Linked DNA regions of Homo sapiens: region 2 is linked to region 1. Evidence: fine-mapped expression QTL. A gene starts in region 1. The other region holds a variant in brackets. All regions are shown on one strand. Distances are from middle to middle. Region 1 holds the start of LINC01872 (long intergenic non-protein coding RNA 1872). Region 2 has its middle 19 kb from the start of IGLON5.

What was found.
Region 2: its variant is fine-mapped to the expression of LINC01872 in testis (GTEx, PIP 0.98).

What each region holds. Positions count from the first base shown.
Region 1 is chr19:51,264,613-51,280,321 of GRCh38, reverse strand. It overlaps LINC01872 (long intergenic non-protein coding RNA 1872), which reads right to left and starts at 9,056. Exons shown (of 3, transcript NR_136526.1): 1 at 8,750-9,056; 2 at 1,451-1,568. SIGLECL1 (SIGLEC family like 1) reads right to left here. Exons shown (of 6, transcript NM_001385465.1): 3 at 14,673-14,954; 4 at 14,440-14,545; 5 at 12,793-12,949; 6 at 10,992-11,751. The coding sequence ends at 11,725. LOC107985327 (a long non-coding RNA gene) reads left to right here and starts at 9,155. Exons shown (of 4, transcript XR_007067309.1): 1 at 9,155-9,303; 2 at 10,078-10,159.
Region 2 is chr19:51,285,184-51,300,892 of GRCh38, reverse strand. No RefSeq gene overlaps it. Among named protein-coding and RNA genes, the nearest start is that of IGLON5, 19 kb to the left of the region's middle. RefSeq lists enhancers at 3,673-4,350, 5,709-6,387, 7,066-7,744, 7,745-8,423. The variant C/T (reference allele first, on the strand shown) is at 7,570.

The sequences.
Region 1 (15,709 bases):
CAATCATGAGTAAAACAGTTCTGCTGAGTTTTGAGTCCTTCTTGTGGATCACTGAATCAGAGGCATCTTGGGGGGACTCCTAAACTGCACCACCCCAATCTAGTCTGCTGGATTTTTTATTGCTCTTCTTGTTGGTATTAACCGTATCTTGTGATCTGGGTCATGTTGTATCATTTCTGAATCTCAGTTTCTCAATCAGAGAAGTGGGTACGATAATACCAATGCTACAGTATTGTGATAATTAAGGACCATAACTACAGAGGCACATGGCCCTCTGTAATAACTGCAGATTTTGACTTCAGTCACATTACATTACAAGAGACCATGTCATAGTGAACCGTTAGTGAATAATTGTGCTCACCACCCATTAGCTCATTTGGAACTCCCTCCCCTCCCCAACAGCCTTGTGAAAGCTAGGATTGTTGTGGTTGAATGGTTTCCACAAATAAATTTCCTTTTGCTCTGTAGAAGGGGAACACCCCATTGTCTAGGTGAGCAAACTGAAGAGAATTACTCAAGGTGGTAGAGCTTGAACCTGAACTCTGGTCTTCAAAGACTGAGGGTTTTTTGAGGATCTATATTGTAGAATAAAGATTCTACTTTTTTTTTCTTTTTTAGACAGAGTCTTGCTGTCACCCAGGGTGAAGTGCAGTGGCACGATCTTGGCTCACTGCAACACCCACTCCTGGGTTCAAGTGATTCTCCCAACTCAGCCTCCCCAGTAGCTGGGATTACAGGTGCCCACCACCACACCTGGCTAATTTTTCTACTTTTAGTAGAGACAGGGTTTCACCATGTTGGCCAGGCTGGTATCCAACTCCTGACCTCAGGAGATCTGCCCAACTTGGCCTCCCAGCATGCTGGGATTACAGGCATGAGCCACTGTGCTTGGCCAAGTACCTAATTTTTTAGGTACTTCATCTTACCTCAGCCTTCATCTTACCTCAGCCCTGTCTGCCTTCCAACTCCACCCACCCTTACCTCCCCAAGACACCTCCATGCTGCCTCTCCTTCTACTTACCCAACCATAGCAGTGGCAGTGCCATCAGCCCCAGCGAGATCTCAGGGGCAAGAGAGGACCAGGATGTATCCTGCTGCTAACTCTGACCTCAGATTGGTCTGTCCTGGAGGGCAGGATTTGGAATGGATGAGGAGAGGGGCAGCAGTAAGAAGCATGGGGTGAGGCTAGAAAGAAGTCCACTGCTTGCTAGGGGCTCTTGTCTTTTCAATCCACCCCTAAGGTCTGCGAATCTTGTGAATTAGGGGCCTGATGGGACCAGATGCTGGGGAGCTTCAAGAACAGAGTTTGGGCTGGGCGCAGTGGCTCACACCTGTAATCCCAGCATTTTGAGAGGCTGAGCCCAAGAGTTTGAGACCAGCCTGGGCAATGTAGGGAGACCCTCTCCCTACAAAATGTTAAAAAAAATTAGTCGGGTGTAATGGTACATGCCTGTAGTTCCAGCTACTCAGGAAGCTGAGGTGGGAGGATCTCTTGTGCCTGGGAGGTTGAGGCTGTAGTGAGCTGTGGTCACAACACTGTACTCCAGCCTGGGCAACAGAGCGAGACCCTGCCTCAGAAACAAAAGAACAGGGGTTGTCCGCACGCTCTTTGTGAAGCCTCAACACCATGTCTGCTTTCCTGTCTCTAGTCTGCATTCCCACTCCATTACCTCTTCAAAGAGCCTCAAATGCCAAGCTGAGGAGCTCGGACTCCCTCCCACGTCAATGGGGGAAGTCATGGAAATTATGGAATGGTTTTGAACCATGGGAGAACGGGTTTGGGTGTTCGAAAGGTTCCTCTGGGTCTGCAGTGAGGAGGAAGCAACAGTCCAGGAGAAAGAGGATGAAGTCTGAGCTGCAACAATAGCTATGGGGGACAAAGAGAAGGTGATATATTTAAGAGAGATATTTGAGAAATAAACAATATTTCAGCGGCTGATAGGATACATTCCAAACTCCCTTGCCTTTCATTCGAGCTCTCCCTGATTTTGCCCCGCTTTTCCCTTACCTCGATAGCCCCCATGCCTGCACCCTGTCATTCTTTCTTTTTTGAGACAGAGTCTTGCTCTGTCACCCAGGCTGGAGTGCAGTGGCGCGATCTCAGCTCACCGCAACCTCTGCCTCCCGGGTTCAAGCAATTCTCCTGCCTCAGCCTCCTGAGTAGCTGGGGCTAAAGGTGCCTGCCAGCACGCCCAGCTAATTTTTGTATTTTTGGTAGAGACAGGGTTTCGCCATGGTGGCCAGGCTGGTCTCAAACTCCTAACCTTGGGTGATCTGCCCACCTTGGCCTCCCAAAGTGCTGGGATTACAGGCGGGAGCCAATGCACCGGCTGAAATGGGGATCCTTTCTACAGATGCTCCGCACATCCTTCCTCCGCCTGTTTACTCAGGCCACTCCCCGTGTCATGGCGTCCTTCTGCAGCTCTGTCCTTTGCCCACATTCAAACCCTCCTTCTCTCTCCAAGTCCAGGTCAAATGTAACCTCCTCCTGGAAGTTCTCTCCTGGATCTCACAACCAGAAAGAAGCCTCCTCTCTCAGACTGTCTTCAGCAGCCCTAGCTATCCATCTCCTCTAGGGCAATATCTCAGGTAGACCCTGAGAGTTGCCTACCTGATATTCAACCTCTGTTTCCTCCTTGTTATTTCAAATTTGTCCAGGTGATCAAGCCACCAATCTGAAAAATAAAATCTCTATTTTCTTGTTTCATTTTCATCTAGGGTGGCCATATGGCAGAGTTCTGGCCAGTGAGCCAAGGAGAAGAAAAATGTTATCAAATTACTATCAGTGAATAAAAGCCTATTCAGCTTTTCTCCCTTTTTTTTTTGCCATCCCAACTGAGCTCCCAAGGGTTTTTTTTTTTTTTCATGTAATACTAGCTAATAAAATTCCAGGACTTGGTTTTAAAAACATAAATTTTCATAATAAAGTACATGACTCTCAGAAAGAGTTGAAGGACACGTTTCCTGCCCCTGCAGCAATAAATCAAAAGATATTGTTCTGTGTTATAAAATGGTTCAAGGAATTTGATTTGATGTTGTGCAAAACTGAGACTGTTTATAAGAATATCATTTATGTTCTCCTCTGCAATATACAGTTTTGTATGAATATTCATGACGGTTGCTGACTTGTTCTAGTCTTTGGTAATACGAATCTGCTCTTGGAAGAATAATTTAAACCAAATGGTCTTATGAGACTACAAAGATGTTAGAAATTATTCCATGTCTTATGAAAATGATCCCCAAATAAAATGGAATTCTGACGGGTTGTCTTATTTGATGATTTCTTGCTCTGGTAATAATAACATTGTAATTGACATCTCTGTTTTCCTAAATTGTATACCAATCTGTAGGACCGTACTCTTCTTTCTCATGAACAATGCAAAAAAATAAAAATAAAAACCTGGCCAGGCGTGGTGGCTCATGCCCGTAATCCCAGCACTTTGGAAGGCTGAGGCAGGTGGATCACCTGAGGTCAGGAGTTTGAGATCAGCCTGGTGAAACCCCGTCTCTACTAAAAATACAAATATATATATAGAGGGTGTAGTGGCAGGCGCGCCTGTAATCCCAGCTACTGGGGAGGCTGAGGCAGAAGAATCGCTTGAACCCGGGAGGCGGAGGTTGCAGTGAGCTGAGATTGCACCATTGCACTCCAGCCTGGGCAACAAGAGTGAAACTCCATCTCAAAAATAAATAAATAAATAAATAAATAAATAAATAAATAAATAAATAAAAGAAATCTTTAACTCCACTAGATTACTGAGCGCACATTTTGAGAGACTTGTCTACTTAAAAATACCAAACTTAAGAGGCTATCTGCTGGAGAGTTTTGGGAGTTCTGCTTTTCTGACACTAGCACCATCATTTCCTCCTCCTCACCTTCCTCTTCTTACTTCCTGGAAGATGAACGTGATGCTGGAGATGGTGCAGCCACCTGGCGACTATGAGACAACTGTGAGAATGAAAGCTAGAGATCTGGGGATGTCACTGACAACAACATGGGGAGCCTGGTTTTCTGATGACCCTGTGGAGCTATTGTAACAACCCCACACAGCCCACTGCCATATCTCTTCTCCATTTGATTGTCACGCTAGTTGGGAAACTGATAAAATGCCTTACCAGGGAATCTAGCCAAAAGTGAACTCCTAGGCCAGGCGTGGTGGCTCACGCCTGGAATCCCAGCATTTTGGGAGGCCGAGACGGGCAGATTGCTGGAGCCTAGGAGTTTGAGGCCAGCCTGGGCAACATGGAGAAACCCCATCTCTACTAAAAGTACAAAAATTAGCCAGGTGTGATGGCACATGCCTGTAGTCCCAGTTACTCGGGAGGCTGAGGTGGGAGAATTGCTTGAACTGGGGAGGCAGAGGTTGCAGTGAGCCAAGATCGCGCCACTGCGCTCCAGCCTGGGTGACAGAGCAAGACTCCATCCCCACCATAAAAAAAAAGTAAAGCTTCCATGCTTGCAGGTACCAGATGAATGGGGCCTGTTTGTGAAGACATAGGAGACTCCTTGGGGACTCCTAGAAAACTTTTGGAGGAAGATGACAAGGAGACTCTGCAGGGGGCTCTGCAGCTGAGGAAGGACAGTGGAATTTCCATTACTCCATTGTTCCAGTGATATTTCCACCATTGCCCCTTCACATTTCCACATCTGCATGGCATCCTTTTAAATTATAAATCAATCATGTCAGTTCCCTGTTCGTTACCATCTGTTGGCTTCACTTTACTGTCAAAATAAACTCCAAAATTTGACAGATTTTGGCAGACTGCTAGAAATACTACCTAACCCTACTTCCCCTCTGTTTCTCTTTCTCTCCTTGGTCAGCTTCTGCCCCTTCACAGTACGCAGGGAAGTAACTCTGTATCTATTCTGACCAGAATGTGAGTTCCTTGAGAAAATTAGTCATGTCCAAATATCTTTTGTGTGTCATGTTGGAATCACCTTTGTGTACCACTTCTGGGTGGCCTTTGTGTGTCATGCCCAAGGTACCTTTATGTGACATAATGGAGTCCACCTTTCAAAGTCAAGTCTGAGTCACTTTTGTGTCTCTAGTACCCAACACACAATCTGGAACACAGCTGGTGCATAATAAAGCTTTATCAAATGAAAGAAGATTTGGAACCAAGAAATTTGGGGTTTTGGCAAGGCGCGGGGACTCACACCTGTAATCCCAGCACTTTGGGAGGCCAAGGCGGGCAGCTCACTTGAGGCCAGGAGTTCGAGACCAGCCTAGCCAACATGGCAAAATCCCTTCTCTACTTAAAAAGCAAAAATTAGCCAGGCGTGGTGGCATGCGCCTGTAGTCCCAACTGCTCAGGAGGCTGAGTTATGAGAATCACTTGAACCCAGGAGGCAGAGGCTGCAGTGAGCAGAGATTGTGCCACTGCATTCCAGCCTGGGAGACAGACAGAGAGAGAGAGAGAGAAAGGGAGAGAAAGAGAGAGAGATAAATAAATAAATAAATAAATCTGGGTTCTAGCTGTGGCTCTGCAGATACCTTAAAATAAATAAATAAATAATACCGAACAATCATGGTGGCCCATGTGCTGTGCACTGGAGATTCACATACTTTATCATTCTCAATCTCACAACAGCACTGTGATGTAGTTCTCAATGCATCACTTCGCAGATAAGGAAACTGAGGCCCAGAACAGCATAGGAACTAGTCAGGTTCACAGGGCCAAGAAATGGACATCCTGAAGTCATAATGTAGGTCCCTGGACTCCGAACCCAGTGTTCTTTCCGGTATGCCAGGCTGCCTTCAGAACTGCTGTGTCATCACGGTTGAAGCCTCTTCTCCTCTCTGAGTCCCATGCTTCATGTATAAAATATGGGAATAAATCAAACTGTCCTGTCCACCTCACAAGGTTTGAGAAAGACAGTGGGAAAAGCATATAGTTTTGCACCATATGAGTTACAAATGTCTTCCCCCTCGACTTGTGTGGTAGGCAAAATTCTAAAGATGTCTCCCATTCCAAGATTCCTGTGCCCTGGTTATTCAATTAAACATTAATCTACGTGCTTCAGTGAAGGGACTTTGCTGACTGAGTGAAGGGACTTTGCTGATAGAGTGAAGGTGACTAATCTGCTGATCTTAAATTGAGGAGATCATCCTGCACTATCTGAGTGAATGTAATGTAATCACGTGAAACTTGCAAAGCAGAAAAGTCAGAGAGATTCAGGAGAAAGAAAGGGCATACATGAGCCAGAAGTGGAGGTCAGAGAGATGTGAAGCATACGAAGGATTTGACTCACCATTGTTTGCTTTGAAGATGAAGGAACGAACCCACGAGCCCATGAGGGCAGCTCCTAGAAGCTGACAATGACCCCAGCAGACAGCTAGCAAGGGAATGCAGACCTCACTACTACAAAGCATGGAACTGATTCTGAATGTGTTTGGAAATGGGTTCATCCAAAGGGACTCGAGAAAGCAACATAGCCCTGCCAACACTGTGATTCAGGCCTTGTGAAAGCTGGAGCAGAAAACCAGGGGAACCACGCCACACCAGAACTTTTGACCTTCTGTGAGATCATACATGAGTGTTACTTTAAAAGCTGCTAAAATTGGGCTGGGCCCAGTGGCTCATGCCTATAATCCCAGCACTTTGGAAGGCCAAGGCAGGTGGATCACATGAGGCCAGGAGTTCCAGGCCAGCCTGGGCAACATGGCAAAACCCTGTCTCTACTAAAAATATTTTTAGAAAATTATCCAGGTGTGGTGGTACTTGGGAGGCTGAGGAATGAGAATAGCTTGAACCCAGGAGACAGAGGTTGCAGCGAGCCGAGATTGCACCACTGCACTCCAGTCTGGGTGACACAGTGAGACTTGGTCTCAAAACAAACAACAAAAAAGCTGCTAAAGTTGTGGTAATTCTTTTTTTTTTTTTTGAGACGGAGTCTCGCTCTGTCGCCCAGGCTGGAGTGCAGTGGCGGGATCTCGGCTCACTGCAAGCTCCGCCTCCCGGGTTCACGCCATTCTCCTGCCTCAGCCTCCCAAGTAGCTGGGACTACAGGCGCCCGCCACTACGCCCGGCTAATTTTTTGTATTTTTAGTAGAGACGGGGTTTCACCGTTTTTAGCCGGGATGGTCTCGATCTCCTGACCTCGTGATCCGCCCGCCTCGGCCTCCCAAAGTGCTGGGATTACAGGCGTGAGCCACCGCGCCCGGCCAAGTTGTGGTAATTCTTATGAAAGCAACAGGAAACCCATACAACTTGGATGTGAAGCCAGTTCAAAGGAAGGGTTCTAGATTCTTCTGTGAGTGGACGGCCAGCAGTCCAAAGGCTTGGTCTTTGCCTCCCATTTTCTAGGTTTTTCTGGGCCAGGCCCTTCCCTCACTAGGGAACTGCTTCCTCATTTAAGATAGTCTAGAGTTTGCAAATTAGTGGCTTTGTGAGGTAGTTAAAATGCAGGGGGTTTTATTTAGCCTGCATTAAGAAAACTGCATACAGACTTTCTTTCATTAGTTGCAATGTTTAAAAATCAGGATCCTCACATAAAAGTCTGAACTCCCAGCTACTTTTTAATAAATTAGATCTGACAACACATGGCAGATATTAACTTTCCCCTTTAATATTGGACAATTGTTCTCCAGTCCATTGCTGCCCCTGCTCTCCCTGCTGCACTCACCTGGGAGGGGCATATAACACAGTGGTTAAGACCGTGTGCTGAGTCAGCCTGCCTGAGTTTAAGTCTGGCGCCACCATTTGCCAGCTGTGTGACTGTGGGCAAATTACTTCCCCTCTCTGGGTTTCCCGTTTCCTCACTTATAACATGTAGATTTTAACAGGATTCATCTGACAGAATTGTTGGGAGCATTAAATGATTAAATGAATGAATGCATGTAAAACCCTCAGAACAGAGGCCAGCACAAAATAAGTGCTAGGCAACTGTTTATCATTCACATCACCTGCCTGGTTCCCTCAGCATTTAATTTGTGACCGCTCTTGACTCATCTCTTTTCTCAGTGATGTTTTGATTCAAGAACCAGCCCTCTGCTTTTCCATTCTGATCGCTGCCTCTCTTAAAAAAACGACTCCCTCCTTACATCAAGATGCTACTCAGGCTTCCAGATAACAAATCCTATCTCTGCATCATAACCCACTTTTGCTTTTTTTTCACTATCAAAATCCTTCCTCCTCCTCCTTTAATTTACAACCTCGAATCAAAGGTTGGGAAGAGCTCTGGGCTGGTTCCAACTGGGGCTTTGCCAGTAACTCGTTGGATAGCTCTGGGCAAGTTCTGTCCCCTTTCTGCTTCCCCCTCTTTTTCCTCCTCGGTAGAATGGGAGGGTTACTGCAGACTATGTAAGGGTCCTTCAGATTCAAAAACTCTGATCTCTCACATCTGTAATCCCAGCACTTTGGGAGGCTGAGGTGGGAGGATCGCTTGAGCCCAGAAGTTTGAGACCAGCCTGGGCAACACAGCGACACCCTGTCTCTACAAAACAATTTAAAAAATTAGCCCGGCATTGTGGGTGCAGCTACTCTGGAAGCTGAGGTGGGAGGACTGCTTGAGCCTGGGAGGTCGAGGCTGCAGTGAGCTGAGATTGTGCCACTGAACTCCAGCCTGGGTGACAGAGCAAGACACTGTCTCAAATTAAATAGATGAATAAAATAATGAAATAAAAATAAAATTCTGATCTCTTTCCAGTCTCACTTCCTTCTCCAGGCCCTGGTGTGTGCGTGAGTTTTCTTCACAGGTGATCTCTTTTCCCTCCCCCTAAATTATCACTTCTTTTTCCATATTTACCTCCCAGTCTCAGGGTCCAAGGAGCTCCAGCCTGGTCCTTCCTCAGCACTATTTCCTTAAAAACCGAATGTCCTCCTGAATTTTTGCATCAAGCGGGTTTGTTTGACTTCCTATTACTGTTTTCAATGACTCCGGATGCGCCCGATGAACTGACTGACACGTGGAATAACCGTGTACACAAACACGGAGTGCCTCACGGGGAAGTGACTAAGGCAGAGGAAGGCTAACGGATTCGCTGAACTGGGAGTCCCCTGAGGCCTCGCCAACCTCCTTGCACGGGGATACCAATCCCTTGAAGCCCCGCCCCGCAAGCTCGCGCGGGTTTGTCCAGAGCCAATCAGGGCCTGACCCTTCTCGCGGGAGCTGCTGGGATGCGCAGCCGCATAAGAGAGCGCGCGGGTCTCCAGAGCCTGAGCTAGTCAGAAGCAACAGTTGCTACTGCGTCCCCCGGACATTGGGAGAATCGTTTTCCTTGGGCAGCTGGTTCCAGACCCCCACCAGTCCTCTAGACTCCAGGCCAATCAGTTGCTAAGGGACGTTCCTCTCTCAACCTGGTATGTGCGGGAAGTCAAGGCATTAACTAAGGCACAAAATGACTAGTGCTGGACCCCAGGGCTGGTCAGAAGGCACCCTGTGTACTCATTGTTTCCTGTCCTGCACGCGAGGCCCCTATCACCGAGAAAACAAGACACACGATGAAGCCCAGCCTCTCTATTCCCATTCCCAAACCCATCTCTGACCTATCTCCAACCCGATCCCTATCCTCTCTCCTATTCCTTTTCTACATTTTTTTCTCTTCTTTCCCAACACTGGCACTCTCCCTCTCCCCAGCCTTGTCTGCCTCTCCCTCCCAAACAGAGGATGTATCTTTAGTAGAAGCAAACACCAAACCTGTTACATAGAGGCTTCTATCCTCAACTCAAAACCTCTGCTGCCCAGGATTCTCACACAGCTCCACTGGATGTGATTCTCAAACAATCTGCACTTTCCAGAATTACAAAGCATAAGAGGAAATAACCCTCCATAAGTGAGGACAAAACCTAAACTTCCCACTAGAGCCCTGGAAGGCCTGCAAGTTCTGGCCCTTCAGGAGCTCATCCCTCAGTCAATTCCAGTCACAGCGGCCTGCTCTGGGCTCCTGAACTCACCAAACTGTTCTCATGTCAGAGCTTAGGATCTACTGCTCCCTCTGTCTAGCCAGCTCCTAATAATCCTATAGGTCTCAAGGCAAGTGTCACTTTCTCTGAGAGGCCTTCTCTGACTCTGTAATCCAACCTAGCTTCCTTTCCTGTGCTTTCTCATAGTATTCTGTCCTGTTTTCTTTCTAGCACTTATCAACATTTTAAGCTATAAATTCGTCTGCATTTCTTCATCGTCTGTCTATGTAGACCATGACTCCACGGAGGCAGGGTGAGTGTCTTACTTCTTCCCCTCATTATCTGGCACATGGTGGCACATCTGATATTTCTGTGAAATGTGAACTGCCTGTGAGAGGTGCTTATACATGTGGGGGCTAACGTAAACGTCCACCCTGAGTATAAGATGACCATCTAGCTGGTGCTACAGGATCACTGTATTTACCCACAAATATTGCCCCAGGGAAGAGATGACCCTCTTTCCACCTACTGAAAACTACTAGCATCTGGCCAGGCACGGTGGCTCACTCCTGTAATCCCAGTACTTTGGGCGGCCGGGGTAGGTGGATCACCTGAGGTCAGGAGTTTGAGACCAGCCTGGCCAACATGGTGAAACCCTGTCTCTACTAAAACTATAAAAAATTAGCTGGGTGTGATGGTGTGTGCCTGTAATCCCAGCTACTCGGGAGGCTGAGGCAGGAGAATCACTTGAACCCGGGAGGCAGAGGTTGCAGTGAGCCGAGATTGCACCATTGTACTCCAGCTTGGGCAACAAGAGCAAAACTCCATCTCAAAAAAAAAAAAAATCTACTAGCATCTGGCTAGAAAGGAGGTTGTCATCCATTCTGAGAGGAACAATACATAGTTGTGGTTCATTCTAATGCCAGAATCCCTTTCCCATTCCTTGCATGCCTGCCTTTCAATCTGGCCAAGAACTATTGCGATAACCTCCTAACTAGCATCTTTACCTCCAGCCTTACCCATTCTAAATATATCATATGTGGGGTCAGGGTACGGAAATGATTTTTCTGTCTATATCTGGTCACTCTACTTGCTTGCTTCAAACCTTAAAACAGCTTATAATTAATTAAATCATTTGACAAACATTCTTGAGATCTTATTGTATTTTAGGCATCATTCTGGGTGCTGGTGATAAAAGTAGAAAACAAGGCAGACAAAGTCCCTGTTCTCTTGGAACTTACATTCTAAGGGAGTCAGGATAAGGTCCTACAAGATAAAGCTCCAAAGCTCCAATGAATCTTGGCATTCAGGGCCCATCGTCATGTTTTTTCTCACCTGCATCTCTGAACAGTACTTTTCACCCATTCTCCACCCAGATATGGGTCATGTGATGTTCAAAGGATGGGGAATGAAAGATCTTGTCCAAAGATAGACAGCCACCAAGCACTGAAGTTGGGATTCTATCCAGATATGAAGGCTTGAAAGCCTGGCGCTCTTGTAGGTGTATCTCAGGCACTGACACACAGTAGGCGCTCAAAAGTAACTTGCTGATGGACTTGATTCATATTGTCACATGTATTTTTCCTTCTTTTGACACCTTCCCAGGGTGGCACAGATTTCTTCTCATTTAGCCAAACAACAAATTACAAAGTGTGTCTTCAGAGGTTCTAAGACTAGGTCTAAGAGTAACCACCTATTCAATGGAGAATGAGTGTTAAGGGATGTGTAGGAATTGAGAGGGTTTTGTGAGCTGAGGAGAGTCCAGGGGGCTCCAGGTTTATTACAGCCTCCAGGGTTTCTGTGAGCGCTATAAATTTTGCAGATCTTTGTAATTCCAGGGATAATGGCGACTCCAGGTATGAGGCATGTTCCACAGGCTTAGCTGGCTCGTTTATCTTGCTTTTCCTGAAAGCGAGGTGCAAAATAGAACAAAGAAAAAAGAATGTTGGAACAGGTCTAGAGGTGAGGTATCCAAATCTTAAAAAGACACCCCCTTGTGCACAGAATTAAGGCAACATGGAGTGAGCACTGGCTTAGCCCTTCCTCACAACCCCATGGTTAAAGCCTGCAACTCGGTCTTCTCCATCTGGTCCTCTCTGTGCATCTTCAGTACCCATAACACTGACTGTTCCTTAGACTCCTCAGGGAATCTTGCCTGACTTCCTCAGGTAGGTTTGGTCCCTCCCTCTTCTGCACCACCGTAACTCCTGGCTCAGCATCCCCTACTGTGAAGGTGCCTTCTCGACCAGTCTAGTTGCTCTCTGAGGACAAGGCCTAGGTTTGGCCCATTTCTGAGACCCCAGCATTGTCGAGCACAAAGATTAGGAGATATTGCAGGAAATATTGGTGGAATTTAACAGATGGCTTATCTACAAAAGGACACCAACTGTTCATGCAGGGTGTTAGGAGGGCAGCAGGATAATTCTGATTCTGGAGAATCATAAACGGTAAATAACAGTGAGGCATAGCAACCTCGGACACTGTATCTTCCAAGCCCTGCTGAAGATGTGGGGTACAGGGTGAATGAAGGAGTAACCTGGGCTTGGCCTAATCTCTAACCACTTCAGGCTGACTTGGCCTGTGGCATCTACACCAAGCTGACTGCTGCCGGCCATACACTCAGAGGCCAAATCCTTGGTTTCCACTCTGATGCTACAACTGCTATTAGGATTTTCCCCAACTGCCTTTTCAGTGGGGATTCAATGTAATGGTGTGTGCGTGTAAATTGATTTTAATTGTTCTTTAAATTGTTTCTCTTAACTTTCATCCTTCTCCTCTCTGGGCCTTAGCTTCCTATTTATAAAATGACCTGAAAGCACACTCTAGCATTAGGTATCCTGCAAGACTGAGGATGATAACACCTTCAAAACACTGTGTGCTCCTTTCCCTGTGGGTCTTATTATCAGTATTCCGATAGACTAGATTCCAGACACAATAGGTACATACCAATATCCGGCTCTCAGAAAATGTGGCGACTACGGGTTTTCCTGGTTCCTCAGGCTTCAGAGACATCTCAAGTTCTTGGCTTGCTCTGACTTTAGAGCTCTTTTTTGCTCTGATCGCTGCAGCTTTCTTCGCCTGCTTCTTTCTGATATGTTTCACTCTAAGGAAATAAGCCTTGGATTGGTTCTGGCTCTCCATCTCCCTGAATCCCCAAATGGGCTCTATCTTGACCAGAACTTCTGATTTAGAGCCTCAACAACAGTACCAGCTTGCTGTATGACCTAGGGCAAGCCACACATCCTCTCTGGGAATTAGTTTCACACTCTGAATAAGGGGGATACCCTGCTTATTAGGCTGTGGGGCTCAGATGAGGTCAGCTAAGAAAGGGCCTTGCAACTGGCAGAGAGATTGTTACTGGTCTTCAAGTCCTGTTGATTATACTTTGAAAATAGCTCCTCAGTTTGCCCTGACACCTCACTCCTCATCTTTGTCTCCCCATAGCCAGCCATGCCCAAGTCCCACCTCTCTGGCTGCCCCTCATCACTTGCCCCAGGTCAGGCCTTCTATTTCCTGCTTAGTCCCCTGCACCAGCTTCCTGCCTGGCCTCTGACCTTCTGGCTCTCACTCTCTCTAATCTGTGTCCCACCCCAAGCTCAAGCTTTCCTTCACAGCTTAGCACTCTTCCATGGCTCCGAAATGAGGATTCAGTCCAAGCTGTCTGGACAGGCTCCCCTGCCCGTCTCTCTGGCCTGACTTCCTGCAACTCACCCCTTCCCACTCCATGCTTCTAGCTAATACATGCAGCTAAGTTTTAACACCCTGTGAACCAACACCAAGGATGTCTTTCAACCTCATTTTTAGCCATTACCTGGTACTCTCAATGCACCTGACATTATACAAAGACACTGGAAATGCCTCAAACATGCCTCTGGGCGTCTGCATACAAAGGTTAGATATCCCTTATCTGAAATGCCTGGGGCCAGAAGTGTTTCAGATTTCAATTTTTTTTTTTTTTTTTAGATTTTGGAATATTTGTTTATACATAATGACATATCTTGGGGATAGGAGCCAAGTATAAAAACAAAATTCATTTATGTTTCATATATACCTTATACACATGGCCTGAAGGTAATTTTATATAATATTTAAAATTATTTTGTGCATGAAATAAAGTTTGTGTGCATTGAACTATCACATGAGGTCAGGTGTGGAATTTTCTACTTGTGGCATTATGTCGGTGCCTCGAGAACTTTTGGACTTTGGAGCATTTCGGATTTTGGATTTTTGGATTAGATACTCAACCTGTACTATTAATACTTTCCACCAAGCTAACGAGTACTGAACCCTTGCAGGCCCACCACAGACAGCACCCCGGGGACTCGCTGCTGCCTTTTCCAGGGCTGCCAAGTCCCTTCTTGGTCTTCTCCTTTATAAAATGTGTTCAAAGTGTCTGTTTTATGACACAGTTTTACGGTTCTGTATAGTCCTCATGGCCCTGGATTGTGGTGACCATGTTTGGTACATCTTTCCCTCTTTAGACCCTAAGCTCCTTGAGGGGAGGGGTCCTGTCTTTGCTCTCTCTGTGCCAGGGCTGCAGCCAGGGCCTGCCCGGTAGTAGGCTTGCGGGTGAATATTAACCCTAGTACTCACATGAGAGGGAGGAGGCAGAGGAAGAGCAGCGCAATTACAATTCCCGCATAGATAGCACCCTGGATCAGCCCTTTCACGAAGGCCTGGGCAGCCAAAGAACTCTTTCCTGGAAGCAGAGAGCATGTGAGAAGTTTGGCATCGGAGCCAAAACTCTGCTCCATTCTCTAGCCCCAGTGACTGTCCCCATCCCGCTTATTGTCCTCACCCAGTCACCGAGCCCCCTCCACCCTCACTTGACATCAGTAGGATGCTCAAAGCATGGGTTCCGTTTTGGTTCTTCCCCTCACAGAGAAGTCTCATGCCCATTTCTGGCTCTTCAGTTAGGCTGATGGTGCTGTTAGCCCAGGGGCCAAGCATGGTGGAAGTCACTTGGAGGCTGCCATCCATGCCATCCACACCCACGGGGACTCCTCCCATCCACCACTGCACAGAGGGTGTGGGAATCCCATGGAAGGAACAGCTGCACTGCAGTGTCTTCTCCAAGGAGCAAGAGGAGTTGAGCAGCTTAGCAGGTACTGTGGGGAGGAAGGGTCAGGAGTCAGCAAGGCATCCTGGCTTCCCTCTTCCAGTTTCTCCAGCATGCAGCCTTCTCTTTACTTGCTATTCACAAGGAGCTTCAGAAGGACTTTCTGGAAGCCCACAGGATTCAGGCCTCCCAGACCAGTTCCCCTCTATCTTCTGTCCTCATCTGGCCTGAACCTGATCGCTAGACCTTCTTGAGGGGTGGCAAGTAAATTTCCTGAGGCTCTACATTGTCTGTGATCCCTCACCTACCCTGCAAGGCTAGAAGTCCAAGCCAGACCTCCTACTCTGCTTCTCTTCTTCCCACCTGCAATGTTCCTCTTAGGCTCTATGACCAATTCTCCCTCCATCACTTCCTGTCTGGGTGCTGCTGGGCAAGTCACTCCCCTTATCATTGCTGTTTCCTAGCCTGGAAAATCGGGATATTTGCTGAACCTATCTCATATTATCATCGTTATAAGAATGAATGCCCCAAGATTTGCAGTGCACCCAGCTCAGTGCGTAGTGAAGTATTACCCATTCAATAAACAGAACACCTTTCTTAATTTCCTTCTTCCCGGTCTCAAGTGGTCTTTGGTGGAACATTCACTGGAAGCCAAATGTACTATGGCATCTTCTGTGTAAGAATGCTGGAAATTGCCTCGCTCTATTTAGAACAGGTAGGACATGGTGGCCATTTGATGAATATCATGGATTAGGAGGGAACAGTCACATTCATCAAGGTCTCTAATAATGAGGAATCTGTCTT
Region 2 (15,709 bases), 21 kb before region 1:
CATCAGCAAGCTCCCTTGCCCTTCAACTTCGAGGTGGGTTTGGTCAAAGGGAGGCACAGGCAGAATACTGGAAGGGGCTGGAGGATCCCCTCCTCCCTGCCTGCTGCTCCCAAGGTGGGAGCCTCAGTGCCATCAGCAGCCCCTCTTCCATGATCCCAGTTCTCACTAAGGCCTCGGTCATACCATTCCTCCCTTTGTTCCTCCAGGACTCAGCAGAATCTGGCAGGAAACTTCTCCTCCCATTGCTGGCACCTGAGATCCTTACCATCCCTACATCCCTAACACTGCTCGCACCTCTGCAAATCGTACCTTTATTAGACAGTCTGTTTAAGAAATCCCACTGGAGGGGACTGTCTTTTTCAGGCCAGGACCTCGCTGACCTAGCACCATCTTTGGCTTTTATCTTTATTCATGGAGAGCGTTCCATTCTGCTAGGGGGCTTTGCAGGGCATGAGTCAAGGCCTGAAGCCCACTGAACACAATGCTTAGAAATCTCAGGGGTGTTCAAAGATTCATGCCTTATTCATGCAAAGGCTTTCCAAAATAATTAATTCTTTTTTAAAATTTTAATTTTTTTTTTTTTGAGATGATGGAGTTTCACTCTCGTCACCCAGGTTGGAGTGCAGTGGCACAATCTCGGCTCACTGCAACCTCTGCCTCCCAGGTTCAAGCGATCCTCCTGCCTCAGCTTCCTGAGTAGCTGGGATTACAGGTGCCCGCTGCCACGCCGGGCTGATTTTTATATTTTTAGTAGAGACGGGGTTTCGCCATGTTGGCCAGGCTGGTCTCGAACTCCTGACTTCAGGTGATCTGCCCACCTCGGACTCCCAAAGTGCTGCTGGGATTACAGGCATGAGCCACTGCGCCTGGCTGCATGCTAATTTTAAAAACTTTTTATAGAGGTGGGGTGTCACTGTATTCCCCAGGCTGGTTTCAAACTCCTGGGCTCAAGTGATCCTCCTGCCTCAGCTTCCCAAAGTGCTGGGATTACAGGTGTGAGCCACTGTGCTTGGCCTCAAGCTATCCTCTTGTCTCAGCCTCCCAAGTAGCTGGGACTATAGGTGTATGCCACCATGCCCAGCTATTATTTTTATTTTTTGTAGAGATGGCGTCTTGCTGTGTTGTCCAGGTTGGTCTCAAATTCCTGGCCTCAAATAATCCTCCTGCCTTGGCTTCCAGAGTAGCTGGGACTACAGGTGCATACCATCATAGCCAGCCTCAGTATATATTTAAAGGGAGTCTTGCTCTGTCACCCAGGCTTGAGTGTAGTGGCACGATCTTGGCTCACTGCAACCTCCACCTCCCAGGCTCAAGCAATTCTCCTGCCTCAGCCTCCGGAGTGGCTGGGGCTACAGGTGCACTCCACCATACCCAGCTAGCTAACTTTTTGTATTTTTAGTAGAGACAAGGTTTCACCACGTTGACTTCAAGCGATCCGCCTACCCCGGCCTCCCAAAGTGCTGGGATTACAGGCATGAGCCACCGCGCCTGGCCCTTAGTATATTTTTGAGAGAATAAATTAGTTCCTATCCCTTTCATTGACTGAACTCTTCTCATCTTCAAAGACGTCCCTCCCCGACTCTCTGTTTCCTAGGACAAGGTCAGGTATGGTTACCCACTTTGAGATGTACTTTTCTTTTTTGTGCCATGTCCCTGGAGCCGAGCTTGGTGCTAATAATAGCAGCTGAAGCATTCCCTGAGCAAGGTTGGATGGGACGTGGCGCGGGGGGGTGAGGAAGGGGCGTTCCCAGCCCTGGCTCAGGTGTCTCGGCCGTTTGTTCAGTCAGGCGGGCTCCTTATCCTCTCTGAGTCTCCTCATCCTTTTCTACAGGATGGGGATAATCTCAGAACCCACCTCACAGGGCCATGGTGGGGACCAGCAGTGCGATGGTCTGTTTATGTGCCAACCTGGCTGTGTTACAGACCCCAGCTGCTCAACCAAACACTGAGACATGTCGCTGTGGAAGGATTTTGTAGCTGTGACTGACGTCTCTAATCAGTTGACTATGCTGTATACATTTAAGGTATACAACATGATGTTTTGATATATATATATATATACATAATCAGATGATTACTACTGTCAAGCAAATTAACATATCCGTCACGTCTCATAGTTACCTTTTTGTTGTTGTTTTTGCTCTAATCAGTTGACTTTAAGTGAAGGAGATTATCCTCAATAATGTAGGTGGGTCTGATTCAATCAGTTGAAAGGCCTCAAAAGCAGAATGGGGGTTTCCCGGGAAAAGAAAGAATTTCGCTTCAGCTGCTGCTGGAGTTTCCAGACTGCCCCTCCTGCCTGCCTGCCCTACAGACTTCACACCTGCTGTCTTACTCGGTGTGGACTGCTACAACAAAATACCACAGACTGGGTGGCTTATAAACACAAGAAATTCAATTCTCACAGTTCTGGGAGCTGGGAAGTCCAAGATCCAGGCACCAGCATGTTCAGTGTCTGGTGAGGGCCGGCATCCTGGTTCACAGACAGTGCCTTATGCTATGTCTTCACATGGTAGAAGAGGAAACGTCTGGCCTCTTAGGTCTTTTTTTTTTTTTTGGCAGGGTTTGGCTCTGTCACCTAGGTTGGAGTGCAGTGGCACAACCTCCACCTCCCAGGCTCAAGTGATCCTCCTGCCTCATCCTCCGAGTAGCTGGGACCAAACGCATGTGCCACCATGCCTGGCTAATTTTTGTAGTTTTAGTAGAGATGGGGTTTCGCCAGGTTGCCCATACTGGTCTCAAACTCCTGAGCTAAAGTTATCCTCCTGCCTCAGCCTCCCAAAGTGCCGGGATTACAGGCATGAACCACCATGCCCGGCCATCTTAGGGCATGAATCCCATTCATGAAAGTTCCACCTACATAACCTAATCACATCCCAAAAAGGCCTTAAGAGCAGAATGGAGGTTGCCCAGGAGAAGAAATAAGAAGTCTTAGACTTCCCAGCTTCCCGAACTGTGAGAAATGAATTTCTTGTGTTTATAAGCCACTCAGTCTATGGTATTTTGTTGTAGCAGTCCACACCGAGGCCTCCAGACCGCATCATAGTGGGGGTTAAGTTTCAACTTAAAAATGTTGGCGAGACACAGACATCCAGTCCATAGCACCTGCCTAGCCAGCTCTCAGAATCACATAAGCCACTCCCATGCAATAAGCCTTTGTATAAGGATCAGCTACTCGTTCTGTTTCCCTGGTGGAACCCTGATGGATATAAACAAGAGGACCCATGTAATGTGCTTAGAACATGGCCTGGCACAGACACAGTGTGCAACAGACACAGGCTGCCGTCACCGTGCCCTTAACCCCGAGCTGGTTCCTGAATAAACATGAACTCCTCTGTGCCTCACAGTGATCCACGGTATGCTATACCCCCATTTTGCAGGTGAAAGCTGGGGTTAGGGAACATGGGAGTGGCCCACACTCAGGGCCAGAGCTGGGATGTAAACACAGGTGGCTCAGCTCTGTTGTCCAAGTGGCCACTGCAGAAGAAGTTCATGATCCCACGGACCCCCCCACCCTGCAGTGTCCCATGGTTGGGGGAATCCGCATCTGGGAGAGGAAGGGATGGTGGCAGCCCTATCCACAGCCATTCTCCAAATTTAGCAGGGTACAGGGCACACAGAGAGTGCATGGAATTGAGAGAGAGAGAGAAACAGAGACAGAGAGACTAGACTTTGAGGGTCAATGGGAGGGAGAGCCTAGACCTGCTCCTGGAGCCAGCAAAGCCTGAAGTGGCTGCAGGGCCCCAGACAGTTCCCTTCCACAGTCTGCACTCTGGAATGGGGAGAAGTGAGCCTGATGTGATCCTGATGGGCCTTGCTCCTAGGAGCAGGCAGGAGAGGGCAGGGCCATCTCAAATCTGGCTTTGTCCCCAGGCTGTGAGATTCTGGAAGGACCTCCCCTTTGTGAACTTCAACTTCCTTGTGGGTAAGGGCAGGGGGATAGCATCTGTCTCAGAAGGTAGGAACGTAACCTCAGGGAGGCTTCTGAGCCTCTCTGGGCCTCAGTTTCCTCCTCTGTAAAATGGGCATGATAATGGGACCGATTCCACAGGGTCTCTGGCTTAAGTGAATGAAGGCCTGTGAGGGCTTGGGTCACCCTCAGTCCTGGCCAGGACAGTGATCACGGCTGCTTCCGTCATCTCCTGAGGGAACAGAGGTTTGTACAGAGCCACCTGCCATGGCCTCCTCCTTGGATCCTCTCCTTGTAGATGTACAAATGCACACAACTGACCACTGGCCAATTAGCGGTTTGCTCCATGGACTCAGCCCCCTCTGGTCCCTACAGGGAATCTTGAGGAGCCGGCAGTGACCTCAGCCTAGACGGGGAAACACAGCCTGGTATTAGACCCCATCTGTCTGTCTGACCTGGAGTGCCCTCTTGTGTCTTTCCCTTGACTCTGGGGAAAGAGTTCAGCCCAATATCCACTTCTTGGGAGATGATTCCACTTTCCAATCTCACCTGTATCTGTGGAGCTGCTGGGCCCCTGCTGCGCTCATCCCTCAGCCCACCCATATGGATGCCACATTTTTCCTGAAGTCACCCTCCTAGTCCCCACGACCTTTCAATTGGTGGGGGATCAGGACTGAAGTCAAACTCAGGGACATTGTCACCACTGTGCATGTCCTTCAGAGAGAGGGGGAAGCTGATCCCCCAGGTATCAGCTCCTCCCTTGTTTCTCCTGAGGGTGAGCGGGGCGACAGTTGAGGCCTGTTTGCAGGGAGCTTTACCCAGGCGCAGCCTGTGGCCCCTTGCCTGGCTCAGTTCTCACCATTGTCTGCCTCCTGCCCTAGAAATGCTGCTTGCTCTGCCCTTGCTGGAGTGCTCTGACCCCCCAGCACCATGCCTCCTGCCTTCAATCTTGCAGCTTTCTGTGCCTGGCGGTGCTGTCACCTCTCCCTGCATGCCTGCTGGGCTCAGGTAGCAACACTCAGCTCCCCGAGCCGGGTCAAGCCCTCCCTCCCTCAATGCCAGCTCCTCCTCCCCTCCCCTCTCCCCATGCTTCTTGGGACACAGCCCTGGCCCTGCTCGAAGGGTGTAACAACCTGGAGGTCTTATGGGCAGGACCTGGGTCTGACTTCTCTTTGTCCCCAGCCCGCGGCCTGGCACACAGGAGGCCTCCGGGGATTTGTGGCCACATGAGTGACATGAGTGAACACCTGGAATGTTTTTCTCTACCTAGAAATCCCTCCTTACTCTTCCACACACAAGCTTCCTCCCAGAACCTGGGGATTCTTGTTGCCCTTGGCAAAGCGTCTGCGTTCTGAATAACCCCGCCTGCTGTGGGCAGGAAGGGTGTTCAGGGAGCAGGAGTCCCCTCCACATCTATGCCTCTGATCTGAGTTTGCAAATGAGAAGGCTCATCAGGGTTTTTCTTTGACCCACGCGGCGCTGCCTTTTAAAAACATGTTCTCAATTGCTAATGTGCCGGAATCAAGATATTTCACACTGAAATCGAGATCTCTGGATTCTCCTCAAAAGACAAACAAAAAAAAATATGAAGAGCTAGCTGTAGTCTCCCCGTGTTCCTGACCTGTGGGGAGGGGGTGGGGAGGAGTCGGAGGGAGTTCCGCCACTGTGAGCCGCCGCCTTCAGGAGGGGCAGCTGCTTTCAAGACAGACACGGCCCCCATTAGGCCAACTGTGCCCCTCTTGTTCCCTGCCTGGTGGCTGTGAGCATCTGAGTTTGCAACCTCTGCACTAGAGTCTCATAAAGTCAGGAGAAAATGTCCAGGACAGGGTCAGCTGCTGCAGCGGGGGACAAGGGTCCCGGGTTCCGGAGTCCTGAGCAGTGCACAGCCTTGCAGTGTGGCCCGAGGCACGGTGAGCCTCAGTTTCCCTGTTTGCAATGCAGATGTGCAGAGGCTGGGGCCTCATGGTTCCCAGTGTCTCCGTGGATGTGCTCTTGGGGGTTCTTCAGGGTTTCAGCCACTTCCCATCGTGCTGAGCATGCTTCAGTTTCTCTCTCTGAAGAAGGCTGAGGCTGGGTTGGATCCATTCTGGGCTCACAGCGGCCCCTGTGGCGGCAGCAGCCTGTTTCCTGGTGCTGCCCGCCTGGCGTATCCCTGTGTGTTTTGTTTCTGCTCCTGTCAGCCTGGCTGCTGGGGTGGCGTGTCCCTTGGGCAGGTGTCAGGTGTTAGGCGTGTCCCCTACATTGGCTAACATGAGGGCTGGCGCTGGGGAGGCCCCGGGGCATGTTTCCCCAGGAAATGGGTGAGAGCCGGGCGACGGCCTCTGGGTCTGGAGTCTGGGATGGAGTCGCACCTCTGCCTGGGCCAGGTTTCCACGTCCTGGGCCGCATGCCGTGATCCATCTCGGAGTCTACACTCTTCTTTCTCTCCAGAGCCCTAGACTTTGGGAGAACCACAGTCGGTTGCTCCGCTGCCTTAGACAAGCCCAATCCCCTCTCTAAGTACCCAACACGGGGGAATCCAAGCAGCCTCCTTAAGCCTCTGTTATGAGCGGAAGTGTGGATCCACCCCACCCCCCATCATTCATATGTTGACATCCTAACCCCCAGTGACTCAGAATGTGACTGTATTGGAGACAAGGTCTTAACATCGGTGATTAAGGTTAAGTGATGTCACATGATGGGCCTGAATTCAATGACTGGTGTCCTTACAAGGGAAGGAAATTAGGACCCAGGCACACGCAGAGGGATGACCCTGTGAGGACACAGGGAGAAGACAGCATCTACCGGCCAAGGTGAGAGGCCTCAGAAGGAAGCTCTGCTGCTGGCACCTTGACCTGGGATTTCCAGCCTCCAGAGGGGGAGAAAATCAGTATCTGCCGTTCAAGCCGCCCAGTCTGTGGGGCTTTGTTTTGGCAAATGTAGCATCTGCTGTGTGGGGCGAGGGGGCCTGGGTCTCTCCGTCCTGAACAAGTGCCTCCCCGGGGTTCTGCCAGGTGATGGGGTGGGGGCCCTGGCCTGCGGCCCTGTTGCTTGACAGTCTGCCTGTGACTGTCCCAGGGACTTACCTCCAGCCCGGTCTGGTGGGGTGTCAGCTTCAGGCATTTTGGGTACTTCTGTTTCCTCCAGCAGCTCTGGTTTCTTAAGGGGCAAGCCTTCTTTGGCCTTGGGACTCTGATGCTCCTCCCACCAGGTAAGCATCTTCATTCTAAGGCAGGAAGCCCCGTGGTGAATGCTGTGCTCAGTCCCTGCCCCGTCCAGTTCCCAGAAGGAGCCCTGGGCTGGGCCCAGAACACCAGCTTCCTCCGCTTCCTGGTTCTGAGACCAGCACAGCCCCACCCCACGCCGTCAAATGGGGATAAGAACCTCTATTGTCTTGGCGTGGACCCTCTCCCAAGCTTCTTTCTGGGCCTCCTGGAATTCACTCTGTCCCCCAGAGCTGCCCGGCTCCTCTCCTGCTCACAGCCCTCCCATGGCTTCCCAGTCCCCCCAGGACACAGCCCAGCCCTTCAGCCTGGTGGCCCTTCGTGTCTGGTCCATTCCTGCTTCTCTTGCTGCTCTGCGATGTCTCCATATATACTTTTCAGTTTTGGACAGGTCTTTTTTTTTGCACCTTTCTTCCTCCTTCGAATATTGCTGGCTCATGTCTGCATGTCCATGCC[C/T]GGCACATCGCCTTGCTCTTTCTGACAGCTGTGTTGTTCTGTTGTATGGCTGTCCCATGGATTATATAACTGTTCCCTTTCCTTTCTTGCTCTGGCAGCTGCAGGGGCCACCTGCTGGTCCCTGGCTGGCGGCTGTGTCCTTCTGTCCCGTGTCCCCTGCAGAGCAGCCTGAGCAAGCTTTAAAGACCCGACCTGTTCCTCCCCAAATGGAGATCCTTCCATTGTTTCTTTCTGCGTTCAGACAATAAGATTCAAACGTCCATTTCCTGTCTGAAAACACTTGCTCTACAAAAACATCCGAAAATACTGATGGGGCTGAGGTCGTAAGGACGTTGGGGACTGAAGATCAGAGGCCACGCATCAACTGAGGGTTGGCTGCACACTGCTGGGTTGTGGGGAAGCGGGGGCTTGCTGTTATGATTACCAAGGGACTTGCTTTAAATGGTCCAGTGACAGCAGACAACAAGGCCTTGGGTCCATACTAGGTAGCAACCTGGATATGACACCCCCACATCAAGGGGGGCGCCAGAAAAAAAATCTAGTCATTGATCAAGGGAATGACAAGGAAGCATGTCTATTTTGGCCTGGGCTTTCGGTGGCAAAAAAAAACCTTTTTGTATTTATCTTAGAAGCTGAGGCCTCCATTTATAGAGATTTGCATCAGAGAGCGACAAAGTGAGCAATGAACACAAATAGCCCCCGGTGTGTTTCGCTGTTGGGCAACTCACACAAAACTCATTTCAGGGGGACTTGCCCACCACATTGTCCGCATATGCTTCTTGCAGGTAAAGTCCCCACTGAGAGCAGCTCACCTTCCAGGATGACCAAGCATGAGAGGCAATAGCCCTCCACGAGGGAAGATGAAACCCAAACTTCTCACCAGAGCCCTTGAGGCTCTGCCAGCAGGTTAGCCTCTCCCAAGCTCTCCTTAAGCTCTGAGCTCATCTGGCCCTGCTGGGCTCTTGAACTCGATAAACCTTTGCAATCTCAGAGCCTAGAACTGCGGCTCCCTCAGTCTGGGCAGCTCCCCACACTCCTTTAGGCCTCAGAGCAAGTACCTGAAGGCTGCTCCCCGCCCCGTCCCCTTGCCACACTCTCTCCCAGCTCCCCGTTTTCCTCCAGGCACTTCCCAACATTTGTCCCTACACATCTGCATATGTCCTCGTTCAGTGTCCACCTCCCTGAGGCCTGGTTTGCTCTACGATATTGTCAGAGGTATTTGAACCAGAGTAACTCCATCTTGAACAGGGGCTGGGTAAAATAAGGCTGAGACCTACTGGGCTGCATTCCTGGACAGTGAAGGCATTCTAAGTCACAGGATGAGATAGGAGGTCGGCACAAAATACAGGTCATAAAGACCTTGCTGATAAAACAGCTTGCAGTAAAGAAGCTGGCCAAAACCCACCAAAACCAAGATGGCGACAAGAGTGACCTCTGGTCGTCCTCACTGCTACACCCCCACCAGCACCATGACAGGTTACAGATGCCATGGCAACGTCAGGAAGTTACCCTTCTGTTTTAGAACCCTCATCCTCTGAAGAAAGAGTCTCCTTCTGCTACTTTGAGCCTCTGGCTATTGGGCCAGAACATCCCCTTCCTCTCATTTCTGTCACTGGCAACCCCCTAGGCCAGGCCTCTGTATTCCCAGAGGATTTTTATGCTTGACTCTCAGTCTTTCTGTCCCCAGATTTCTGTCATCATTTTGGGCGCCTTTGACATTCCCATGGACAGACCCAATTGTCACCCCGACATGTCAGCTCCCAGAGCTTCTGAGGCCAGTTCCTTTTTGTTGGTGGTGGCTGGAATCCCTTCCTGGGGGAGCCAGCTGGGATGGGCTGTTAGAGGTGGCATCGACCCTTGACTCAGGTAGAGCCAATCAGTCTTCCCTGGGATTGCTAAATCACCACGAGAAGACAAGTTCTCTGTCAGCTGGAGTTAGCTAAGAGAGGAGGACGTGAATCTGGGGCTGGCCATCTTGCCTGTAAGGTGAAGAGAGCCTCCAGAGCTCACGTTAACCAGAAGGAAACAGAGCCATAGGGTGGGGACAGACAGACTCTTGGTGAAGCCATCTGCATGCCTGGATTCAGACATGCCTGAAGTGTAGATCCGCCTGTCACGGGTGGAATTGTGTCCCCACAAATATATATGTTGAAGTCTCAACCCCCAGTAGCTCAGAATGTAACCATGTTTGGAGATAGGGCCTTTTAAGGGGTTATTAAGGTTAAATGAGATCATTATGGGTGGGCCATAGTCTATGCGACTGTTTTTGGAAATAGCGCCTCAAGTTAAATGAAGGCTGTTCAGGTGGGGCCTTAATCCTATATGACTGGTGTCCTTATTTCTTAGTCTGTCCATGCTGCTATCACAAGGTGCCATAGACTGGGTGGCTTATAAGCAACAGAAATTTATTTCTTATACTTCTAGAGGCTGTAAAGCCCAAGATCACAGCACTGGTATATTTGACGTCTGGGCAAGGCTTGCTTCCTGGTTCATGGATAGCAAATTCTAGCTGGGTCCTCATGTGGTGAAAGGGAGGAGATGGCTCTCTGGGGGCTCTTCTATTAGGGCGCTAATCCTATTCATGAGGACTCCACCTTTATGACCTAATCACCTCCCAAGGCCCCACCTCCAAACACCATCATCTTGGGGGTTAGGATTCCAACAAATGAATTAGCAGGGGTAGGGGCATACAGACATTCAGACCATAGCACCTTACATGAAGAGGGAGAGACCGAGGGGTGTGTGCACAGAGGTATGACCATGAGAAGAGGCAGTAAGAGAGTGAGGAGAGAGGCCTCAGGAGAAACCAACACTGCTGACACCTTGATCATGGACTCCCAGCCTCCAGAATGCTGGGAGGACAAACTTCCGTTTTTGTTTGTTTGTTTGTTTTTTGAGACGGAGTTTTGCCCTTGTTGCCCAGGCTGGAGTGCAATGGCATGATCTCAGCTCACTGCAACCTCCGCCTCCCAGGTTCAAGTGATTCTCCTGCTTCAGCCTCCCGAGTAGCTGGGACTACAGGCATGCGCCACCACACCCAGCTAATTTTGTATTTTTAGTAGAGATGGGGTTTCTCCATGTTGGTCAGGCTGGTCTCAAACTCCTGACCTCAGATGATCAGCCTGCCTCGGCCTCCCAAAGTGCTGGGATTACAGGCGTGAGCCACCGTGCCCAGCCTCAAATTTCTGTTGTTTAAGCCACTTAGTCTGTGGTATTTTGTTATGGCAGCGCCTGCAAACTAATACGTGCCTTTAGACTTAACAGTCAATCTGTTCCTACAGCAGATTAAAAATGGTGGCAAATCCTTGGATAGTTTTCCTAAGGACAGGTGGAATCTATTTCTTCTTCCTTTGAATCTTGGCCAGCCTGTGACTTGCTCTAAGAGAATGCTGTGGAAGTGATGTGCTATTGATTCTGGGCCTGTCCTTTAAGAGGACTGGCAGCTTCTGCTTTGGAAGAGAGCACATGGAGAGACTCGGAGCCCACATGGAAAGAAAGAGGGGCCCAGCTGAGCCTCACCTTCTGGCCATCCACACCAAAATGCCTGGTTTGTGAATGAAAGCATTTTGGATTCTCCATGCTAGCCCAACTCAAGTGACCTCCAGTGACACCACAGGGAGCAAAAGAATCACCCAGCTGGGCCCTGCCCAAATTCCTAATCTAGGAAATCATGAAAAATACTAAAATGATTATTGTTTGAAGCCACTGTATTTTGGGGGATTGCTATGATCTGAATGTTTACACCCCCCGCTCAAATTCACATGTTGAAATCCTAACCCTCAAGTGATCGTATTTGGAGGTGGGGCCTTTGGGAGGTGATTAGTTCATGAGGATGGAACCCTCCTGAATGAGACAAAAGCCTTTATAAAAGAGACCTCAGCGAGACCCCAGTCCCTTCCACCAAGTGGGGACACAGTGAGAAGATGTCATCTATAAGGAAAAGAGCCCTCACCAGACACTGAACCTGCTGGCACCCTGACCTTGGACTTCCTAGCTTCCAGAACTGAGAGAAATAAATCTCTGTTACGCACAAAACACCCAATCTATGGCATTGTGTTGTAGTAGCCCAGATGGACTAAGACAGGGGTAGAGACATAGCAACAGATGACCAGAACTGTTCCCTTTCTCTTTGAGCTTGTTGAATTCAGCCCTTATAACTCACAACTGGAAGAGACCTGATGAATGCAACTGTTTCCTTTAACTACCAAGGGTTCATTATCTCCCAAAACTTTTCCACTTATGAAAATGTAAATTCCAATACCTCATGATCTGCCTAGTTCTTCTATCCATCCAGTTTTTTGGTGCTCCCCTTCCAACTGTTCCCATTATATGATATCACAGGTGGAAGCTTCAATTCCAAGACACTATATTTTCTAGAGTCTATGAAGACTCTCTGTTTCTCTTCCTTTCCTCCCTCCCCACCCCACTAGGTACAACGGCTCCCCAGTTAAAGCGCTCTCTTTCTCCTTCCAGCCTCCTTGCTTGCCCGTCTCCAACCTCCCCACTCCATCACCCTTCCTGGCATCTTGTCCATGAATACTCAAACCTAGACCAATGCCATCATCTACTCCTTTTTTTCTGCTATAGTCTGAATATTTGTGTTCCTCCAAAATTCTTCTGCTGAAACATAATCTCCAGTGTTTTAGTATTTGGAGCTGGGGCCTTTGGGGAGTGATTAGGTCGGGAGTGTGTAGCCCTCATGAATGGGATTGTAGTGCCTTTATAAAGGGAGCCCAGATAACTCCCTTTCCCTGTACACCATGTGAGGACACAACCAGAAGGTGCCATCTGTGAACCAAGAAGCAGGCCCTCACCAGACACCAAATCTTCTGGTGACTTGATCCTGAACTTCCCAGCCTTCAGAACTGGGAGAAGTAAATTTCTTTTGTTTATAAGCCACCCAGTCTATGTATTCTGTTATAGCAGGCTGAATGGACTAAGACGTCTTCCAATGACTGCTGCTGGGAGGAGATGTCACATAGCAATGATGCTTGCCACCATTAACGATTACTAATCTCCAGTAACCAATGGGCCTTGGCTACTGCTCAGTGGTTGCTCTCCTTGTCCTTATACAGATCCTGCTCATTCTCCCCAGTGGCTATTCCAACCACCCTAACACATCACACTTCTTCTCAATTCCCCATGGATTCCCCATGCTCCCACCCATGTCATTTTCAGCAGACAGCCTTGCCATGCTTTCCTTGCTATGAAAATAAGCCACTGGGTGGGAGATCCTCACCCCACCAACCCCAATCCTAAATGCTGCCTAAAGGTGAACAAGAGAAAGAACACCTGCCACTGGATTTTGAGAATAACATTGAGAATAAGGATAACTGGTTGCTTTAGACAATGTCATGTCAGTGGCCTGGTGCTGGGGAGCAAGTGGAAGAGTGATGAGAATCAGGAAGTGGTGTAAGATACTTTCTCGAAAGAATATTGGATAGTACATAGAGGAAGCCTGTGGGGCTGAGGCGGGAGAGATTTGTGCCAGCAAAGAAAGAATGATTGAAAATTTAGGAGCCAGAAGGGATGATTGATGGAGTACAGCTCCTAAGGCAGTGGAGGAGAAGGATTCCCAAGCAGAGAAGGTGGAGCTTACCTTGGACAGGAGGAAGAAAGCCTCTTTCCCTAAAAAAGGCAGGGAGTACATCACTCAATGTCAATGGTAATAACGTTGTATGTGTTGGGGAGCTGATTTTTTCCTTGGAAGTAGGTAAACCTTATTGCTGAACATGACGGGATGAGATAAGAGACTGGGGGAAAGAGGGAAACACCTGGCATACTGACAGAGTGTGAAGTTGGAGGGAGTTGATTAGAGGCAAGCTAAAGGATTTTCTGGGCAATACTGATCCCCTACCTCTGCCCCAAGGATGGAGAGACAGTGAAAGAGTAGGGTTCTCTTAGCAACTCCCTCATACAGACCTCTAACCTAGTACTTGTTTACTTGACTCCCTCTCTCTGGAAAATACAGGACACAGGGTAAGAAGGGAAACAGATAAAAAAGTTTGACAAACATTAGATGAGAGCCCTATGATGAAAACAAAGAGCAGAGGCAATATAAACAGTGGTTAAGAATCTTTCCAGAACTGATGAAAGACACCAAAGCATAGATTGAAGAGGCCAAATAAATATAAATAAAGACAAATCTAAAAAAATGATATCCACACTCAGTCACATCAAAGTAAAAGTGTTAGTGCTAATACCCAAAAGTCCAGGAGACCTACAGGAGTCCTGAAAAGACACCTGGCCCCGGAGAGAGGCCCGGGGAAGTTTTCCAGAGCATGTGATGGAGGGGCTGTAGGTTGAGTCCTAAATGATGAGTAAATGTCAGCCAGGTGTGAGAGGGGAGCAGGGGTAGAAAATGAAATGCAGAGGAGGGGGAGTATTGGGCAGAAGCCACATATCAGCAAAGCTGCAGGACAAGAAACGCATGTGTCACAGACAAATAGGCAAGTTGGTGTTATGAAAGTGTAAAGTGTGAGGCCAAACCGGAAATGTCAGAGACAAAGAGGTCTTAAAGGCAGAGACAGATAAGGAGAGATCATTTTCAAAGGAGCAGCAGATGAGAGTCATGGCTGACTTTTCTCCTGTGATAATAGAAGCAAGATATAATGGAACATGGAATAGTTCAAGATACTGAAAGAAAATGCCTGCCGATGCAGCATTCCAAACTTGGCAAATATACCTTTTTTTTTTTTTGAGACAGAGTCTCACTCTGTGGTCCAGACTGGAGTGCAGTGGCACAATCTCAGCTCACTGCAGCCTCTGCCTCCAGGGTTCAGGCGATTCTCCTGCCTCAGCCTCTCGAGTAGCTGGGATTACAGGTGGACACTACCAAATCTGGCTATTTTTGTTTTTTGTATTTTCAGTAGAGACAGGGTTTCACCATGTTGGCCTGGCTGGTCTAAAACTTCTGGCCTCAAGTGATCCACCCACCTTGGCCTCCCAAAGTGCTGGGATTACAGACATGAGCCACCACATCTGGCCAAAATATCTTTCAACTATGAAGGGAGAGGGAGAGAGAGTCGGGGGGCGGGTAGAGAGAGAGAGAGAGAGAGAGAGAGAAAGTGAGAGAAAAAACCAAGAATGTTTGCTACCAGAAAACCAATTCTAAACAGCTTTCTAGAATATATTTCAGGAAAAAAGATTCTGGATGGAAGATCTGAGAATACTAACAGAATGTAAGGAATAAAGAATAGAGACTATGGTAAATATATATGTAAATCAAAATGAGCAGTGAATGTACGAAATAAAACCAAAGATGATGATGACGTCTTTGGGGGCTCAAAAATATAGAATTGGTATTTCATTAATAATAAAATGCCATTAATAGTAAGATGCATAATTTATATATCACTAAGGGAAAAAAATGTTGCCAGTTAAACTATTAAGAACTAACATAGTCCTGAACAGCACATGAATCATCCAATGTCATGTTAATTTAAATTTTAAAAATGTCTTCCGAAGGATTAAGCAATTCCTTCTGGTTTCATTTGCATTGACAGTTTATGAGATAAATTACCCTTTTGCTTTTTATCTTACAAGAAAAAGTAACATGGCTTCATCCACATGTGGGTATCTCTCTTTCCTAGGTTCTATAAAGCACCAGATTGTTGCTTTACAAAAAATATGGAATTCTGGTCATTTCTCAAACAAATGTTACAGGTGTCACAGAATGGAAGGTATGCTTACTCTTTTACTTCTGTGCCCTTCTGTATACACCATAACTTTGTTTCAGTGGCAGCTAATAATGTAATACTTTTGCAAATGTTTGAAAAGGCAATAAATTAAACATGTATCAATGAACAAATAATTCAATTACAGTGATAATATGAACAGCAATGACAAGAGTTCAGGCACCTGCAGGCAATGACAACTTTATCAGGACTGCCACCTGAGACCAACAGCAACTGTAAATCACCATCGGTTGAAGACATATCTCTATTTCAGAGATGTTCGAATGTGAAATAACATGTATATTGGAATTGATAAAATGCCACAAAGCATGTTATAAAAATAGCATGTAAGTTGTGAGGAGGAAAACTAGAGTTCAACTGTTCTAAGGTCTTTATGTTATCTGGAGGAGGGTAAAGGTTTTATACTTTGAAATTATCAAATATATACTTTGATAACTGAAGTA